Linked DNA regions of Homo sapiens. The protein of the gene in region 1 interacts with the protein of each later gene in a pairwise test. Each region holds a gene or a part of one and is shown in the gene's direction. Other genes may lie near its edges. The genes, in order: ESRRG, CCDC33, TULP3, C22orf23, ARHGEF15 and PROX1.

Region 1 (3,500 bases):
CCCTGGGCCTTCCCATCCTTCATGTTGAAAAAGGGAAAATAAACCCAAGAGTGATGTCGAAGAAACTTAGAGTTTAGTTAACAACATCAAAAATCAACAGACTGCACTGATAATTTAGCAGCAAGACTATGAAGCAGCTTTCAGATTCCTCCATAGGTTCCTGATGAGTTTCTTTCTACTTTCTCCATCATCTTCTTTCCTCTTTCTTCCCACATTTCTCTTTCTCTTTATTTTTTCTCCTTTTCTTCTTTCACCTCCCTTATTTCTTTGCTTCTTTCATTCCTAGTTCCCATTCTCCTTTATTTTCTTCCCGTCTGCCTGCCTTCTTTCTTTTCTTTACCTACTCTCATTCCTCTCTTTTCTCATCCTTCCCCTTTTTTCTAAATTTGAAATAGCTTTAGTTTAAAAAAAAATCCTCCCTTCCCCCTTTCCTTTCCCTTTCTTTCCTTTTTCCCTTTCCTTTTCCCTTTCCTTTCCTTTCCTCTTGACCTTCTTTCCATCTTTCTTTTTCTTCCTTCTGCTGCTGAACTTTTAAAAGAGGTCTCTAACTGAAGAGAGATGGAAGCCAGCCCTGCCAAAGGATGGAGATCCATAATATGGATGCCAGTGAACTTATTGTGAACCATACTGTCCCCAATGACTAAGGAATCAAAGAGAGAGAACCAACGTTCCTAAAAGTACAGTGCAACATATACAAATTGACTGAGTGCAGTATTAGATTTCATGGGAGCAGCCTCTAATTAGACAACTTAAGCAACGTTGCATCGGCTGCTTCTTATCATTGCTTTTCCATCTAGATCAGTTACAGCCATTTGATTCCTTAATTGTTTTTTCAAGTCTTCCAGGTATTTGTTAGTTTAGCTACTATGTAACTTTTTCAGGGAATAGTTTAAGCTTTATTCATTCATGCAATACTAAAGAGAAATAAGAATACTGCAATTTTGTGCTGGCTTTGAACAATTACGAACAATAATGAAGGACAAATGAATCCTGAAGGAAGATTTTTAAAAATGTTTTGTTTCTTCTTACAAATGGAGATTTTTTTGTACCAGCTTTACCACTTTTCAGCCATTTATTAATATGGGAATTTAACTTACTCAAGCAATAGTTGAAGGGAAGGTGCATATTATCACGGATGCAATTTATGTTGTGTGCCAGTCTGGTCCCAAACATCAATTTCTTAACATGAGCTCCAGTTTACCTAAATGTTCACTGACACAAAGGATGAGATTACACCTACAGTGACTCTGAGTAGTCACATATATAAGCACTGCACATGAGATATAGATCCGTAGAATTGTCAGGAGTGCACCTCTCTACTTGGGAGGTACAATTGCCATATGATTTCTAGCTGCCATGGTGGTTAGGAATGTGATACTGCCTGTTTGCAAAGTCACAGACCTTGCCTCAGAAGGAGCTGTGAGCCAGTATTCATTTAAGAGGCAATAAGGCAAATGCCAGAATTAAAAAAAAAAATCATCAAAGACAGAAAATGCCTGACCAAATTCTAAAACCTAATCCATATAAGTTTATTCATTTAGGAATGTTCGTTTAAATTAATCTGCAGTTTTTACCAAGAGCTAAGCCAATATATGTGCTTTTCAACCAGTATTGTCACAGCATGAAAGTCAAGTCAGGTTCCAGACTGTTAAGAGGTGTAATCTAATGAAGAAATCAATTAGATGCCCCGAAATCTACAGTCGCTGAATAACCAATAAACAGTAACCTCCATCAAATGCTATACCAATGGACCAGTGTTAGTAGCTGCTCCCTGTATTATGTGAACAGTCTTATTCTATGTACACAGATGTAATTAAAATTGTAATCCTAACAAACAAAAGAAATGTAGTTCAGCTTTTCAATGTTTCATGTTTGCTGTGCTTTTCTGAATTTTATGTTGCATTCAAAGACTGTTGTCTTGTTCTTGTGGTGTTTGGATTCTTGTGGTGTGTGCTTTTAGACACAGGGTAGAATTAGAGACAATATTGGATGTACAATTCCTCAGGAGACTACAGTAGTATATTCTATTCCTTACCAGTAATAAGGTTCTTCCTAATAATAATTAAGAGATTGAAACTCCAAACAAGTATTCATTATGAACAGATACACATCAAAATCATAATAATATTTTCAAAACAAGGAATAATTTCTCTAATGGTTTATTATAGAATACCAATGTATAGCTTAGAAATAAAACTTTGAATATTTCAAGAATATAGATAAGTCTAATTTTTAAATGCTGTATATATGGCTTTCACTCAATCATCTCTCAGATGTTGTTATTAACTCGCTCTGTGTTGTTGCAAAACTTTTTGGTGCAGATTCGTTTCCAAAACTATTGCTACTTTGTGTGCTTTAAACAAAATACCTTGGGTTGATGAAACATCAACCCAGTGCTAGGAATACTGTGTATCTATCATTAGCTATATGGGACTATATTGTAGATTGTGGTTTCTCAGTAGAGAAGTGACTGTAGTGTGATTCTAGATAAATCATCATTAGCAATTCATTCAGATGGTCAATAACTTGAAATTTATAGCTGTGATAGGAGTTCAGAAATTGGCACATCCCTTTAAAAATAACAACAGAAAATACAACTCCTGGGAAAAAAGGTGCTGATTCTATAAGATTATTTATATATGTAAGTGTTTAAAAAGATTATTTTCCAGAAAGTTTGTGCAGGGTTTAAGTTGCTACTATTCAACTACACTATATATAAATAAAATATATACAATATATACATTGTTTTCACTGTATCACATTAAAGTACTTGGGCTTCAGAAGTAAGAGCCAACCAACTGAAAACCTGAGATGGAGATATGTTCAAAGAATGAGATACAATTTTTTAGTTTTCAGTTTAAGTAACTCTCAGCATTACAAAAGAGTAAGTATCTCACAAATAGGAAATAAAACTAAAACGTGGATTTAAAAAGAACTGCACGGGCTTTAGGGTAAATGCTCATCTTAAACCTCACTAGAGGGAAGTCTTCTCAAGTTTCAAGCAAGACCATTTACTTAATGTGAAGTTTTGGAAAGTTATAAAGGTGTATGTTTTAGCCATATGATTTTAATTTTAATTTTGCTTCTTTTAGGTTCGTTCTTATTTAAAGCAATATGATTGTGTGACTCCTTGTAGTTACACTTGTGTTTCAATCAGATCAGATTGTTGTATTTATTCCACTATTTTGCATTTAAATGATAACATAAAAGATATAAAAAATTTAAAACTGCTATTTTTCTTATAGAAGAGAAAATGGGTGTTGGTGATTGTATTTTAATTATTTAAGCGTCTCTGTTTACCTGCCTAGGAAAACATTTTATGGCAGTCTTATGTGCAAAGATCGTAAAAGGACAAAAAATTTAAACTGCTTATAATAATCCAGGAGTTGCATTATAGCCAGTAGTAAAAATAATAATAATAATAATAAAACCATGTCTATAGCTGTAGATGGGCTTCACATCTGTAAAGCAATCAATTGTATATTTTTGTGATGTGTACC
Region 2 (3,500 bases), on another chromosome or scaffold:
CCATTTAGACACATGAATAGGTCCCAGAAAGGGCAGCTAGCGTCTACTAAATAACCCTCTTCCAGGGTAGGAGCAAGGTATGGACGGCAGGGGACTGAGTCACAGGTGCCCCAATGCCTGGCAGACAGTCCCAGCCATGTGGACCCTCCTGCACCCAGGAGAATGGGGTGACTCTGGGAGGGACATGGTTTGGGGATCAATCTTGAAAGATCACTCCCAAGCCCCACAGAAGTCAGAACCAACTTCTCTCACCGGACCTGTTGGCCAAGCTCCCATAAGAAGTGGGATGTTCCCATCATTGCAGTCTCTGTTCAGGTGTCCAGGGCACCCTAGCCCTGCAGTGACTGCAACCCATCTCCCCAGGGGCAGGGGCAGACACAGCTGAGCCTTGGGCTGGGCCTGGACAAACCAGGCCCATTAGTGTGACCGTCATCAGCACCCTGCCACTGTGGGGAAGTGGACCTACACTGATATTTCATGATCCTGCATCAATAACTCCTGGAGCCGCAGTGCATTTGTGCTGACCTTTTCGAGCAATGACTGATTCCTGTGGGGGAGCAGGAGGTGGGAGCGGCTGCTACTGTTGCTGACAGCCCCTGGCTGGGGAACAGAGGCAAGGCAGCCACTTGGTGGGTCTGTAGCAACGACCCGCAGCCCCGCCCTGTGCTGGGACCCTGCAGGGCTGCCTGCTGGGAGTTATGGGCCGATGGCCATCTCCCATCTCCCACCTTCTGGCCTTGGCAGATGCTGGGCCTCCCCCTGGAGTCTCTCCTCATTTCAGGCGTCCTCTGCACAGGGTGTGCTCAGTGCCACTCCACATTTTTGATTGTGCTGTTTTCCCATCCTGAAGACCTTTATCCCTCTCTTCACCCAGCCAGACCTTCCTTCAGAGCCTTTCTCTGGTTCTGCTTCCTTTAAGGAGGCTTTTCTGACCACCCATGGGAATATTTCATATAGCTCTCTTATTGGGCAGTGCTACAGTTAATACTGTCTTGTTTCATTGTTTAAATCATACCCATGTGTGTGCCCTAACTGCTGACCTAGGGTGCCATCAAGTCCCCCGAGTGCCCACTGGCCCACACTGCGGGCACACGGAGCCTCTGTAGTCTGCAGAGATGTCTTGGCCTCTGCAAGGGGCTGGGGAAACTGTGTGGGAAAGAGAGGGGCTGGTGACACAGACAGAGGTCATGTCTAACTTGGCATCTGTGACACCACCAGCCATGGGTGTGAACACAGATACAACACTTTAGGAAAACAGTTTACCAATAATGAATGAGGTGTCCTAAAATACACATGTCCTATAACCCAGCAATTCCATTTTAGGTAGTTGTACTAAGGAAGTAATTTGCGACATGAAGATATGTAGCAGAGAACGTTCAATGCAGTGTTATTACAGGGAAAAATGGGAAGGAAGAAATCAGGGCACTTGGACATGAACTTCATATCCTGAAGTTACTCAAGTCATGGGTAATGAGCTTTCTGTGACTTTGGATCTGCTTAGGTTTTACTGGCAAATGAAAAATGCAGGATGCTAGAATGGTGATTATACACAAAATATACACAGAAAAAAACTAGGAAGAAGCACAGTTTTATGAATTATTGTGTTTATCATAGGAACACAGGAGCTGTTTTTCTTCTTCCTATTTTTCTGCATTTTCCTAAATGTATTTATTAGGTGTGTGCTGCATTTATTTGTTTATTTATTTATTTATTTATTTTATTTATTTAGAGACGGAGTTTCGCTCTGTCACCCAGGCTGGAGTACAGTGGCGCAATCTCATCTCAGGGCAACCTCTGCCCCCCCGGGTTCAAGCAGTTCTCCTGCCTCAGCCTCCTGGGTAGCTGGGATTACAGGAGTCCCCCACCACACCTAGCTAATTTTTGTATTTTTAGTAGAGACAGGGTTTTGCCATGTTGGCCAGGCTGGTCTTGAACTCCTGACCTCAAGTGATCCACTTGCCTTGGCCTCCCGAAGTGCTGGAATTACAGGCGTGAGCCACTGTGCCCAGCCAGCTTGCTTTTATAGTTGGGAGAAACATTTGTGACAAATCTAGATACACAAAACCAAATATCTGTGTATGCCTTGATTTGGGAGAAGCTGTGGCCCCCACCACCTGCTCCTACCCTCTCCCTCCAGCTGTCCAAGCCTGGGGGACCCCCAGAGCAGCCCCTGTGGAATCAGTCCTTCCTCTTCCAAGGCCGAGATGGAGCTACCAGCTTCTCAGAAGACACAGCCCTGGTGCTGGAGTACTACTCCTCAACTTCAAGTACGTGACCCCTGGTGCCTCGCCAGGGCAGCCATGCCTCAGGAGATCTGTATTATGAAAGGGTGTTCAGACCATCCCACCTCTGCCTCCCACAGGGATGGATGGTTCCCAGGTGTCCAGGCGGCTTCCTAATGCAGGCAGAGGAGAGCTGGCTGCGTTCCTTGTCCACAGGCCAGGACACGTGGGCCTGTCCCATACTAGGTCTTGGCCCCAAGCTTTGTTTTATTGCACCCATCAGTGATGGGGGAGGGCTGGAGCCCTCGGAACTCACAGAGAGGGGTGAGGGAGATGGGCTTCAGAGACCAGCTGATCCACAGTTTTCTGCACTGTGGGATTGAAGCCCCCAAAGGGTAGAGATGAGGCTGATGTATATAAATTCCCAGACACACAGAGTATGTTTAGAGTTGGCTTTGAGTTCACAAAGCCCTGAAGATGAGAAGAGGATGTATGTGCAGGGAAAGGCCAGGAGGCAGGAAAGCAGGCAGCGGGAGACAGGAGGACTGGATGTCAGGTATTAAAGGATGGGGCCGAGGTGGGGGCTTTGGCAGGAGCCCTAGTTGATCCTTCCCCCACAGTGAAAGGCAGCCAGCCGTGGACCCTCAACCAGCCCCTGGGCATCTCTGTGTTGCCGCTAAAGAGCCGTTTGTACCAGAAGATGCTGACAGGGAAAGGCTTGGACGGGCTTCACGTGGAGCGGCTCCCCATCATGGTGAGCCCCCTGCCCTGAACTGGGCCCCTAGCGTGCCCACCTGGCCCCACCCTGCCTCACCCTGCCCCACCTCACCACACCTCCATAGGAGAATTTGGCTTCTCCAGAAGCTTCTGTCAAGGCACCCACCAGGGAAGTCACCCAGTCTAGAAGTGAGGAGCTCCCTGGAACCCCAGAAGCCAGTCTTGCCTCTGGGACTATGACGAACCAAGCCAGAGAAATTGCCCCTGAGCAACTTGGGAGACAAGTACAGGGTGACCCTGTGAGACAGTGCAAGAGTTCAGGCTTTCAGCCAGCCAGACCCTGATTTGAACCACAGTTCAAATCCTCACTGTGGAAATTCAGGCACATTACTGAACCACAAGAGTCCTCGTCTGTAACACAGGAGAAGCATGCCAAGTACACAATCTCTGTGTATAACAAGAGAGTTCAGAGCTCAGGCTCTAGAGCCAGACTGTCTGGGTCCAAATTCTGGTTCCACCACATACCAGCTAACATGACCATGGGAAAACTACTGAAAGTGT
Region 3 (2,874 bases), on another chromosome or scaffold:
CTTAGGAGGGTCGAGGCTGCAGTGAGCCGTGATCACACCATGCACTCTAGCCTGGGCGACAGCATGAGACCCTGTTTAAAAAATAATAATAATCGGCCAGGCGTGGTGGCTCACGCCTGTAATCCCAGCACTTTGGGAGGCCGAGGCCGGTGGATCACCTGAAGTCAGGAGGTGGAGACCAGCCTGGCCAACATGGCAAAAACCCGTCTCTACTAAAAATACAAAAAAAATTAGCCAGGCGTGGTGGCAGGCACCTGTAATCCCAGCTACTCGGGAGGCTGAGGCAGGAGAATCGCTTGAACCCAGGAGGCAGAGGTTGCAATGAGCCAAGATTGTGCCACTGCACTCCAGCCTGGGTGACAGAGCAAGACGCCATCTCAAAATAAAATAAGAATAATCTGCTTGGCTTGACAGGCATTTTTAATACCTAGTGCAGGCCTTATTTAACCACAACTAATTTTCACTGTATGTAATATAGTGCTATGCCCTCACTGGGAAATAAATATGTGTTGGTGCTGACAAAGTTGAACAGTTTGTTCACAGTTATCTCAAATCACATTTAAGACTCAAGAGTAAGAGGCCGGGCGTGGTGGCTCACTCCTGTAGTCACAGCACCTTGGGAGGCCAAGATGGGCGGATCACCTGAGGTCGGGAATTCGAGACCAACATGGAGAAACCCCGTCTCGACTAAAAAAAAAAAAAAAATACAAAATTAGCCGGGTGTGGTGGCGCATGCCTATAATCCCAGCTACTCAGGCTGAGGCAGGAAAATTGCTTGAACCCGGGAGGCGGAGGTTGTGGTGAGCTGAGATTGTGCCATTATACTCCAGCCTGGGCAACAAGAGTGAAACTCTGGTCCCAAAAAAAAAATAGTTAAGAGTAAACTCTCAAGCCAAGAGATTCTGTTTTAAATGTAGGTGTTTAAAGAAGGTATAGGCCAGGTGCAGTGGCTCACGCCTGTAATCCCAGCACTTTGGGAGGCTGAGGCAGGCAGATCACGAGGTCAGGAGATCGAGACCATCCTAGCCAACTTGGTGAAACCCCGTCTCTACTAAAAATACAAAAAATAATTAGCCAGGCGTGGTGGCATGCGCCTGTAGTCCCAGGCTGAGGCACAGGAATCGCTTGAACCCAGGAGGTGGAGATTGGAGGTTGCAGTGAGCTGAGATTGTGCCACTGCACTCCAGCCTGGCGACAGAGCGTGACTCTGTCTCAAAAAAAAAAAGAGAAGTATAAAGAGATATAATATTACTTTCCTGTTTTTGATTCTGTTTACAGCAAAGTAATAAAATTATTTTTGGTACACCTGATTTTTTTTTTTTTTTTTTTTTTTTTTTTTTTCTGAGGCAGAGTCTCACTCTTGTCGCCCAGGCTGGAGTGCAACGGCGTGATCTCGGCTCACTGCAGCCTCTGCCTCCTGGGTTCAAGCAATTCTCCTGCCTCAGCCTCCCGAGTAGCTGGGATTACAGGCGCCTGCCACCACGCCTGGCTAATTTTTGTATTTTTAGTAGAGACAGGGTTTCACCATGTTGGCCAGGCTGGTCTCAAACTCCTGACCTCAGGTTATCTGCCCACCTCGGCCTCCCAAAGTGCTGGGATTATAGGCGTGATCCACTGCCCCGGCTGATACAGCTGATATTGTCAGCATCTTACATTCCCAAGAAAGTCTCATGTTATAAAAGAATGTGGTCTCTATTTTTTTCCTGTTTCCAAGTTCTGCTTTGTTTTCCTATCTTCCAGGAAACAAACGTACTTGGATTTAAAGGTCCTAGGAAAATGTCTGTGATCATTCCTGGAATGACACTGAATCATAAGCAGATCCCCTATCAGCCACAAAACGTGAGTAAGAATGTATTTAAATCAGTGAAAGACTCTAAAAGACAGTAGTACAATACACAGAGATTAATACAAAAAAAAAAAAAAAGATTGAGCTTCCAGAGCCCCACACTGGAGATAGCTCCATACACTTCTTTAGGAAAGCTGCCCCTCCAAAACCTCAGGATAAGAGCAGTTGCAGAGTCATTGCCTTGAAACCATTTTTTCTACAAAGAGAAATGCTGGATGATGTAGAATAATTTTAAAAAAAACCTGTCTTCATTGTTGGCTTTCATTCTTCGCTTCTGGTTTACCCTTTCTGAAATGGAGAAAGTATTCTCCTACTCTACCTTCTACCTCGTAGAGTTGGAGTTCTCAGTACAAAGTAATGATTTTCCCTTTGGACAGAACCATGACAGTTTGCTCTCAAGGTGGCAGAACAGAACTATGGAAAATCTGGTTGAGCTGCACAACAAGGCCCCCGTCTGGAACAGTGACACTCAGTCCTATGTCCTCAACTTCCGTGGCCGGGTCACTCAGGCGTCTGTGAAGAACTTCCAGATAGTCCACAAAAATGACCGTAAGCCTCCAGGAGGGGTTGGGTGGGAAGAGGAGGACAGATGCTCTTACAGGATGGGAATGCACATTCCCTGTACATGATAGGAAGTGACAGTCAGCAGATAATCATGGAGGAGAGACAGGATTTCTTTGGAAAGATGAAACTACAGTTTTAGAGAAAACTTGTAAATCACTGTGTTGAGGAGGGGAGAGGAGTGTGAGAGAGATGCTATAGCAAATCAGAGAAGTTGGCTGGGCACCATGGCTCACGTCTGTAATCCCAGCACTTTGGGAGGCCGAGGTGGGCAGATCGCTTGAGACCAGCCTGGGCAACATGGTGTGAAACCCCATCTCTACAAAAAATAGAAAAATTAGCTGGGCGTGGTGGCAGGCACTTGTAGTCCCAGCTACCCGGGAGGCTGAGGTGGGAGCATCACTTGAGCCAGGAGGTCGAGGCTGCAGTGAGCTGAGATTGCATCACTGCTCTCCAGCCTGGGTGAC
Region 4 (3,500 bases), on another chromosome or scaffold:
CCAGTCAGATGGTCCTTTTTTTTTTATTTTTCCAGAACTCAGGATTAACTGAAATCTACCACTTCCTGATGATAGGGGCTATCAGGGCTCAATGCCACAGCCTAACCTCTCCCTGCAGCCCCTATACATAAGTTGCCACTACAGGCATCGCCGAGGCCCCAGGTTCCTGAGCTTTCTTAGCCTTGCTCTGCTAAGTTTTGACAAAACTTTTTTTTTTTTTTTTTTTTTAAAGACAGAGCCTTACTCTGTGCCCAGGTTGGAGTGCAGTGGTGCTATCTCGGCTCACTGTAACCTCCGCCTCCCGGGTTCAAGCAATTCTCATGTGTCAGCCTCCTGAGTAGCTGGGATTACAAGTGTCCACCACCATGTCCAGTTAATTTTTTTAGTAGAGATGGGGATTCACCATGTTGGCCAGGCTGGTCTTGAACTCCTGGCCTCAAGTGATCCGCCCACCCTGGCCTCCCAAAGTGTTGGGATTACAGGCACAAACGACCGCTCCCGGCCTTTTTTTTTTTTTTTTTTTGAGACAGTGTCGCTCTCATTCTGTCACCCATTCTGTAATACAGTGGCATGATCATAGCTCACTGCAGCCAGAACTCCTGAGCTCAAGCAATCCTCCTGCCTCAGTCTCCAGAATAGCTGGGACCACAGGTGTTCCCCACACCCAGCTTTTTTTGAGACGGAGTCTCGCGCTGTCACCCAGGCTGGAGTACAGTGGCACGATCTCGGCTCACTGCAACCTCCACCTCCTGGGTTCAGGCAATTCTCATGCCTCAGCCTCCCAAGTAGCTAGGATTACAGGCACCATCACCATGCCCTGCCCAGCTAATTTTTTTTTTTTTTGAGACTGAGTCTTGCTCTGTCGCCCAGGCTGGAGTGCAGTGGCACCATCTCGGCTCACTGCAAGCTCCACCTCCCAGGTTCACGCCATTCTCCTGCCTCAGCCTCCCGAGTAGCTGGGACTACAGGCACCTGCCATCACGCCGGGCTAATTTTTTTGTATTTTTAGTAGAGGTGGGGTCTCACCGTGTTAGCCAGGATGGTCTTGATCTCCTGACCTCGTGATCCGCCCACCTCGGCCTCCCAAAGTGCTGGGATTACAGGCATGAGCTACCGCGCCCGGCCCATGCCCAGCTAATTTTTTGTATTTTTAGTAGAGATGGGGTTTCACCATGTTGGCTGGGCTGGTCTCGAACTCCTGACCTCATGATTTGCCTGCCTCAGCCTCCCAAAGTGCTAGGATTACAGGTGTGAGCCACCGTGCCTGGACTTTTTTTTTTTTTTTTTTTTTAGAGATAGGATATCGGTCAGGCGTGATGGCTCATGCCTGTAATTCCAGCACTTTGGGAGGCCGAGGCTGGCAGATCGTTTGAGCTCATGTGTTTGAGACCAGCCTGGGCAACATGGCAAAACTCCATCTCTACTAAAAAAAAAAAAATACAAAAATTAGCTGGGCACGATGACGTCCACCTGTAGTCCCAGCTACTCGGGAGGCTGAGGTGGGAGGATGACTTGAGCCCGAGAGGTTGCAGTGAGCCGAAATTGTATCACTGCACTCCAGTCTGGGCGACAGAGTCAGACCTTGTCTCAAAAAAAAAAAAAAAAAAGAAGAAAAAAAGAGATGGGGGTCTCACTACATCCATTAGGCTGGTCTTGAACTCCTGGTCCTAAGCAATCCTCCCACCTCAGCCTCCCAAAGTGTTGGAATTACAGACCATACCCAAACTCTTTTCTTGGTTCTTTCCACCTCTTCCTGCCTCTCTTGACAGTACAGTATTGCTCAGGAGAACCCAGGGTAGCAGCAGGTGTACGGAAGCCCTGTCTGCATGACCAGGCACCCTGCAGCAAGCACGTGCACTTGGGAACACAGACCATGAATAAGGGCACCCTTTACAGCCTAACTAGGCCATTTCTTTTTGGCCCTACAGGGGATTTGGAGAAGGAGAAACAAAGACTCCAAAATATCTTTGCCACAGGGAAGGACATGGAGGAACGGAAAAGAAAGGCCCCTCCTGCACGACAGAAGGCTCCAGCCCCTGAGCTAGACCGATTTGAAGAGCGTAAGACTCCGACGGACCAGTCATGCTGGGGGTGGGGGTAATGTGAGGAGGGGGCCCAGAATTGGATGGAGCAGTCAGGGGATCCCTGAGGGCCAAGGGCCAACAAGTGAGAAACACTATTTATTTATTTATTTATTTATTTTGAGACAGTCTTGCTCTTATTGCCCAGGCTAGAGTGCAGTGGCGTGATCTGGGCTCACTGCAGCCTCCACTTCCCAGGTTCAAGCAATCCCTCCTGCCTCAGCCACCTGAGTAGCTGGGATTACCAGCGCCCGCCACCATGCCTGGCTAATTTTTGTATTTTTAGTAGACACGGGGTTTCACCATGTTGGTCAGGCTGGTCTCGAACTCCTGACCTCGTGATCCACCTGCCTTGGCCTCCCAAAGTGCTGGGATTATAGGCGTGAGCCACCGCGCCCGGCCTAGAAACACTATTTGACAATAGAACCACTTCCTCTCCTCAAGAGAGGCAACCCGCTGCCTGCATCCCTCATGGGAACCTGACAGCCCTCTCCTCTGTCCAGTGGTGAAGGAAATCCAGGAGAGGAAAGAATTCCTGGCTGACATGGAGGCCCTGGGACAGGGCAAACAGTACCGAGGAATCATCCTTGCTGAAATCTCCCAGGTAGGAGAAACAACCAGGAAAGTGGGGAGGGGAAGGGCCCAGCGCCAAGTGCGAATGGAAATACAGGGTCTGCTGTGGCAGGGTTCAGGGGTCAGGCTCTAGCTCACTGCTGTGACAGCTCCTCAGGTTCCTAGCCCTGATACACCTGCTTTCCCTGATGCCCTTTGCAGAAACTCCGGGAAATGGAAGACATTGACCACAGAAGGAGTGAGGAACTTAGGAAGGGTCTTGCCACCACTTAATCTGTCTCCAGAGACGGGCAGGGTAGCCCAAGCTCGACCACTGGAGTCCACTCCTCTGCCAGGCAGGGCCATCCTCAGGCCAGCCCATCCTACCAGCCTTCTGCCACGTCAGGTGGTGGCATAGCACTGCCCTGCAGTACCCCAAGGCATACTCAGCAGCCTAGCCCCTGCCCCGGAATGCAGATGGAGCCTCTGAGACTCACAGCCCCGTCCGCAGAGAAGCAAAGCCCGAGCATCCCTACTAGGACATGTGTCTAAAGGTATCCACTGGGCCTGCTTCCCACCACTTCTGACCTGTGGCCTGTTCATTTAGTTTTCTGAATTCAGGAATGAATATGATTCCTTTCTTCCTGTTTTAGGATTTACTTATTTGATTTCTTACCGCCTTAGGCAAGTATTCAACCACAATGATTAACTGGCCAATAAAACATATTTAACGTGGGTCATTACAAGCACCATTTTGTTTTCAGAGGGATAAGCTTATTTGTTCAAGGCATTAGACTTTGTCAAGCCCAGATGGTTTCTAGCTACCTGTTTGCATATTTCAAGTGGCAACGGGAACCAACCTCTTGG
Region 5 (2,771 bases), on another chromosome or scaffold:
ATTATAAAGTACATGTGAAGGTTATGAGTGTTATGGAAAAAAAAAAAAGTGAGCAGAGCAAAGAAGGTCAGGAGTTCCAGGGTTGGGCAGACTGAAATTTTCAATAGGGAGGCCGAGGTGGACCTCACTGAGAAGGCAACATGAAGCTTGATGGAGCTAATTTAGGCCCATGGTGTCTGGGGGAAGAGTGTCCCAGCTGGAGGCAGCAGGCAGTGCAAAGGCCCTGCGGCTGGTGTGTGACTGAGGAACTGTAAGGAGGCCAGTGTGACTAGCAGGAGAGAGAAAGGGGGAGAAGCAAATGAGGTCATAGAAGTGGCAGGGATGGGATCACGCAGGACCTGACAGGTCTCTGCAAGGACTCCACCTCTTACTCCAAGAGACATGAGCAGCCACTGCAGGGCTTGACGGAAGAGCAGCCCAGACTCTCTCCGAGCTGCTGTCACCTCCACTTCTGATGCCCTTTCTACCGATGCTCCAGGCTTGTCCATGAATTCCCACACCTACAATGACCCTGAAGGCCTGAGACCCCACGAGGCCCCCTTTGCCTCCTCACCTGCTCCCTGCCCCCACCTCATTGGAGCCTCTGTCTCTCTTCCCCCAGGTTGGCTGAAGGGGCTTCCTGGGGCCTTCCCTGCCCAGCTGGTGTGTGAAGTCACAGGGGAACACGAAAGGAGGAGGCACCTTCGCCAGAACCAGAGGCTTCTCGAGGCTGTTGGATCTTCTTCAGGCACCCCCAATGCCCCCCCACCCTAATGCAGGCTGAGGAGGGGGCACATGTTGGGAGACACCTACCAGTGTGGCACGGAGAGAACAAAGCCCATTCATCCATTGGATTCACTGTCAGTGGAGATACTACCTCTCGTGGCAACCATAGAGATCGAGCTTCAGGACAGAGCAGCCAATGAAAACGGCCGCCTGAACCCACAGCAATAAGAATGAATGAGGATGCCTTGAATGTGTGGCCAATGGAGACAGAGGCTTAGTGCAGAGCAGCCAATGGGTACTGAGCTGGCTGAGCCTATGGCCAATGAGTATTCCTGCTATGCTCAGGGCCAAGGAAGACAAATCTAGGTCATGGCAGTTGAAAAAGGGCCTCATTGGAGATAAAGTCGTAGGATAAAATTGGGAACAGGAATGAGCAGGAAGCCAATCAGCCAAAGAAAATGGTGATCTGGACCCAAGAGACCAGTAGTCACCCTGCTTGTTTCTGCAGCAATGACTGGTCCTGTCTTTTGAGTCTGGGAAATACTAGTTTCCATTCCTGGATGCTTCCTGTGCCCTCTCAAGCCAGTTCTTCTCTTCCAGAAGAATTCAGAGTATGTGTCTCAGAAAATCTGTGTGTGTACATGTGCATGTGTAGATATGTGTGTATATGTATCAGGAAAGGCATTCTGCTGACTGTGGTGTGTGTGTGGTGATTGTGCTCCTGACCCACAAATGACTGAGTGCTCCATTTCTTCCTTTACCCCCCATTTTTCCTATTATTCGCTCCAAGAAAGATGCTAAGTCTGAGCTCCAGAAGAGACTGTGCTGGGTGTGGCTTGGCACCCAGGGGATGAGAGCCCTGAGCTTTGGGTCTCTTGGAGGCTAGGGTTCTGTGGCAGTTGCAGGGCAATGTTATGGAGCAGCCAACGGCCTGGCAGAGGAGCCCAAGGGACTGAAGATGGCCAGTAGCTGGGTCCTGAGGCCCCTGAAGTCTGCAGACCCTTCTCCTTGCCCCAAACACTGGCCTCCATAATTCCTGCCTGCAGATCTCCCAACTTGAACTATAATCCACCAGCCAGCCTCAGCCTTGAGCTTTGGAACCACATTAGATCCTGCATCTGGGTGAAGAAACGGGAGCTGTGGACCACAGGCCAGCCAGTGAACCTCCTGGGCTTTCTTGCCTTTGTCCTGATCCTCTCACAGAAACACTGGGCCAAACAGTGGGGAGAGATTGGAGAGCGGGTGTGGCTGCCCAACCCCATCCAGAGCATCTGCTTCCAGATGAGCCAGTGCCTCGCATGATACCAGAGGAGGCGAGGGACAGAGACAGCAAGGCAGACAGTGGCTGGCAGGGGGGCCCAGGCCCGGGACGAGGCCTCCCCTTCAGCTCAGGCACAGCAACTTGCCCAGGACTGACACTGTCACCCTGACTGCAGGAGGCACAGGGACTCCGGGAGACTCAGAGGGCGAAGAGCACTGGCATTTGGCATGTCCATGACATTGGAGACTCCCCTAGCAGGGTGCCTGACGTGTGGGGAACCCTCAGTAAATAGTGGTGCATTTGTATTGAGGCTCTCTGAGGAAGTGTGTGCTTATAGGAGCAGTGGTCTCCAAGCATGGTTTATAAGGGGATGGGGCTGCTTGGAAAGGGGTCCAGAGCAGGGGTCAATTCTGTTGGGAACTGGGGCTTGAAGGTCATGTGCTAGACCTGAGTGTGTTAGCCCACTCACAGTTCCTGAGGGATCTCAGGTGGTGGTGGTTGTGGCGATGGTGGTGGGTTTGCAACAGCTGTGGTTGGGGGCTGCTGCAGGCTGGGCAATGCCTGGGGCTTTGGCAGGGGATGAGAATGCAGCAAGAAGGATAAAAAGGGCAGTCAGGGCCGGGCACGGTGGCTTGCACCTGTAATCCCAGCACTTTGGGAGGCCGAGGTGGGCAGATCACTTGAGCTCAGGAGTTTGAGACCAGCCTGGGCAGCATAATGAAACCCTGTCTCTACAAAAAATACAAAATTACCCAGGTGTAGTGGCATGCGCCTATAGTCCCAGTTCCTCGGGAGGCTGAGGCAA
Region 6 (3,500 bases), 2.5 Mb from region 1:
CTGAATATGGTATAACGTAATGGTCCATCAAAGCCACACTTGGAGGATAGAGCTAGATGGGGTAAATCCTCTGACTTGCTCTAGAAGGTGAGTCATGCCAAAGTGGTGCCCACTCCTTTGTATTTCTCCTTAGGAATGGACACAGTGCTTAACTCTCCACAAATGACTTCCACCTGGGTAAGAGGTAAATGCTTTTCAATTACCTTGGAACGAAAGAGGTAGAGGGAAATCATACAATTCAGAGATGTTGGCATGGCGAGAGTTCTTCTTCTACAGGGGTGATGTATATGAAGGATGAAACCAGGGCCGACCTAGTTTAACTCCTAGAGCAAGAATCTAAACAAAGTTCTATGTTCTCACAGAGAGCCAACTTAATTCCCTCATAATGACATTTAGCCAAACAAAAAGCTCAGCTCATCGGGGCTACAAATCCTTTGAGAAGGACAAGTGGACAAATGTGAGAGAGCTGCCAGGGATCGATGGGCCGCACCAGCTCCCTGTTCACTACTGGGTGCTGATTTTAATGTACAAACTAATAACTCTTAGACCACTAAGTACAGCAGATTCAGTGTCATTTTAGCTTTGAAGAACAGACGCTCACAGCTTTTCAAGCCGGCAGTGTTAAATGATGTATCTCATTCCCTCCACCCCTTGAGTCAACTGCTGCCTAGCCAGATTAAGGTGTCAGATTGATTTGTTTTATACATCTTTTGACCATGCTCATTGAATATTTAGGAAGTTTCTTCAGCCCATATTGAGGCTGAGATGTCCCGTGGGAAGCATTAATCAAAGTCACAGAGACTCGTACACTGTGGAAACACAGCCTCTTTATTGTAGCGATTAGTTTTTGCAGTAACACATTAACACACTACAGAGCTTTCCTTTATAGAACAATTGATCCTTTTCTTGTAAGCCACTACAGAATGAGGGAAATTAACTCTTTAAAGTTTAATACTTTTTCTCCCCCAGTGTGAATATCTAGAAAAGCGGGGGCTTGCTTTTGCTTTTAGCCGGCGACTAAAACTGAACAAATTTTAGTTCACTTCTCCTGGAGGGAAACCCTGTTCCTTAGGCTGTTGGGCTGGTCATTTCGCTTGCCTCATGTTTGGGGAGTCTGTTGTTTTTGTCCATTCTTTCTCTCTGGTATTTCCATTCTCCAACAATAAGCTTTAAATCTCCCTTTATGTCCCATTCGTAAATAATGGCAAGTGCACTTACTTTTTTGTCCTCCCCATTAGGTCATTCGTGACCATTCTAGAAAAAAAATACCCTTCTATTTTTTTCCTCTACAGTACTCTTGTCCATATGAGACAATGTCTTGTAACAATGCAGAAGCCTAATCTCCATGTCAAAGCAATTTTCATTCCCCAGTGCACAGCCTGCTATCATTTTGTAATGTTTTGTTTCTTATTCTAAAAGAATTAAAAAGGAACAGTAAGCCGTCACGGGGGCCTGTAGTCCTTATCTCAGTGTCTGGAAATTTGGACAGTGTATTTTACTGCTGAGATAAAATGGAAAGAACTCCAAGTTCAGCAAATCGTAATGGGTTTAAGTTCTATTGAAATCGGCAACCAGAAGATCAGATAATGGGGGTCCTTCAGTTGTCTTTTTAATCGGGTTCCCCGCGAGGCTGAATAGAGACAGAGCAGACACACAGAGTGAAAATATAATTCTTGGATAGGTTAAGTACATGTTTGAACTCTTGCAAGCAGAAGCGATTTGCTGATGACTTAATCATTTTCTGGTCAATTATCTGTAAGGGCCCTTGCAACTCCATGGCAATTATGATGCAAGTTGGCCTTTTGGGAGAAACACCAGTCTCTCTGCTTCTGTTTCCTTGTGACTTCCATTCTCTGCCATAAATTTTCATTCATTTATTATCTTTGCTAGTATAGAAACAACTTTCTGTGTAGTAATTAGAGCCCCAATACACACTTTAGCTGTCATCTTGTTGGAGTCTGGATGTTCTCATGGCCTGTGTTTGATAAGTGCTCTTTGTTGATTTTTGATGAATGTACATCTTTTTCTGGGGGCCCAGGGAAGGGGATGCCTGTGATGACAAAAGGCAGGGGGTTGTCTGTCAGCCCGCCTGATATAGAGCTATGGATTTATTGGTTTTGACTTGGCAAGTTGAGACTCATCTGTCCTTTACGTGAGCAGAGGACTGTCAATAAGGATGGTATCATTTGCAGTGCATCCAGAAAGACATCTTCATTTCAAAGGTCATCAGGAAACCTTGGTAAACAAAGTTTTAAGGCCTAACCATGTTATAGTAACTTGGCATTTAAAAAAATGTAATAAAGCTCCTGTCTATGCCATCTGTGTACTGTGTCCTAACCATGCCTCCCAAATGGCAGAGATACCAAGGGAGGGGGACATGGGTCTTATCCAATGCTGGCTTCAGGAAGCAGGTGAACAGGCACCAGGAGCTGACCAGACCTCACCAGACATGAATGCCGTGGGCAAACATTAAGTGGAATCACAGTTGGATGGACATGGGAATCACTCATTGCCAAAAAAATAAGCAAATGCCAACTCCTCCCATTTTGTGGGAAGGCCATTTGTCTGCATTGAAGGGGGCTGTAATGCGGTGATACAAATCCTCACTTAAAAAAAAAAAGTATATCAAACTAGTGGTAGAGTCATGTGGCACATCACCTCTGGTACATGGGAGTAACAACACTTCCAGGATTCTATGGCTTCAATGAATGTCCATAAGAAGTATATAAATGCAAGTTGTTCTACTGAAAGATGAAGAACAATGGTTAAAAATAAAGATGTTCGGCTTAAGGAAAGTCTGATTTAGAATGTGACTTTTCCACTTGAAAGGTAGAGGGTTGTGATATGATTTCCATTACTGACAGGTTTTTATAATTTCTTGTAAGTATATTCTTCCTCTTGCCTCTCTTGCCACCATTTTGGTGGAGTTAAATACGTATCTTTCCAAGTAAAGAAGGGACGGGAACATTAAAAATGCTTCAGACACTTAAAAAAATAAATGAAGAAAATGGCAATGTTCTTATCCTTTTCAACATTTAAATTTAACAGTTCAACAGATGCATTACCTCTCAGCTCATCAAGTGGTTTAGCAATTTCCGTGAGTTTTACTACATTCAGATGGAGAAGTACGCACGTCAAGCCATCAACGATGGGGTCACCAGTACTGAAGAGCTGTCTATAACCAGAGACTGTGAGCTGTACAGGGCTCTGAACATGCACTACAATAAAGCAAATGACTTTGAGGTAGGAACTAATCTTTATTTTTTGGTCATCTCCCTTTTCCTTTTTTAAAAAATTTATTTTCTTTAGAAATGTACCCAAATCTGTTTTTGTGTTGGTTTCGCATACAAGCATCCCCCAATAGAGTAACAGGTAGAGCTGTGATGAGGAGCTTCCATAGTCCCCATTGGAATCATGAGGCTCTGACCCACTGCCATTTTTTCCCCATTCCCTGGCTTTTCAGCTTGTGTGGAAGACTCATTTGGCCACAGAAAAGGGAA

The links.
Region 2: the proteins of ESRRG (region 1) and CCDC33 interact in a two-hybrid assay, tested with the Homo sapiens proteins (one large-scale study listed by BioGRID).
Region 3: the proteins of ESRRG (region 1) and TULP3 interact in a two-hybrid assay, tested with the Homo sapiens proteins (one large-scale study listed by BioGRID and IntAct).
Region 4: the proteins of ESRRG (region 1) and C22orf23 interact in binary tests that used the Homo sapiens proteins (3 or more experiments, as listed by UniProt).
Region 5: the proteins of ESRRG (region 1) and ARHGEF15 interact in a two-hybrid assay, tested with the Homo sapiens proteins (one study listed by BioGRID).
Region 6: the proteins of ESRRG (region 1) and PROX1 interact in a two-hybrid assay, tested with the Homo sapiens proteins (one study listed by BioGRID).

Annotation. Positions count from the first base shown.
Region 1 is NC_000001.11:216,503,430-216,506,929, reverse strand, and holds part of ESRRG (estrogen-related receptor gamma), read left to right. Parts: 3' UTR 1-3,500. UniProt on the Homo sapiens protein: Orphan receptor that acts as a transcription activator in the absence of bound ligand. Binds specifically to an estrogen response element and activates reporter genes controlled by estrogen response elements.
Region 2 is NC_000015.10:74,277,826-74,281,325, forward strand, and holds part of CCDC33 (coiled-coil domain-containing protein 33), read left to right. Parts: intron 1-1,293; exon of another isoform or gene 1,294-1,467; intron 1,468-2,137; coding exon 2,138-2,267; intron 2,268-2,842; coding exon 2,843-2,976; intron 2,977-3,500.
Region 3 is NC_000012.12:2,935,891-2,938,764, forward strand, and holds part of TULP3 (tubby-related protein 3), read left to right. Parts: intron 1-1,740; coding exon 1,741-1,839; intron 1,840-2,223; coding exon 2,224-2,395; intron 2,396-2,874. UniProt on the Homo sapiens protein: Negative regulator of the Shh signaling transduction pathway: recruited to primary cilia via association with the IFT complex A (IFT-A) and is required for recruitment of G protein-coupled receptor GPR161 to cilia, a promoter of PKA-dependent basal repression machinery in Shh signaling.
Region 4 is NC_000022.11:37,943,602-37,947,101, reverse strand, and holds part of C22orf23 (UPF0193 protein EVG1), read left to right. Parts: intron 1-1,928; coding exon 1,929-2,060; intron 2,061-2,584; coding exon 2,585-2,685; coding exon of another isoform or gene 2,686-2,787; exon of another isoform or gene 2,788-2,855; coding exon 2,856-2,927; 3' UTR 2,928-3,500.
Region 5 is NC_000017.11:8,320,241-8,323,011, forward strand, and holds the end of ARHGEF15 (rho guanine nucleotide exchange factor 15), read left to right. Parts: intron 1-601; coding exon 602-753; 3' UTR 754-2,271; downstream 2,272-2,771. UniProt on the Homo sapiens protein: Specific GEF for RhoA activation. Does not activate RAC1 or CDC42. Regulates vascular smooth muscle contractility. Negatively regulates excitatory synapse development by suppressing the synapse-promoting activity of EPHB2.
Region 6 is NC_000001.11:214,008,473-214,011,972, forward strand, and holds part of PROX1 (prospero homeobox protein 1), read left to right. Parts: intron 1-3,048; coding exon 3,049-3,243; intron 3,244-3,500. UniProt on the Homo sapiens protein: Transcription factor involved in developmental processes such as cell fate determination, gene transcriptional regulation and progenitor cell regulation in a number of organs.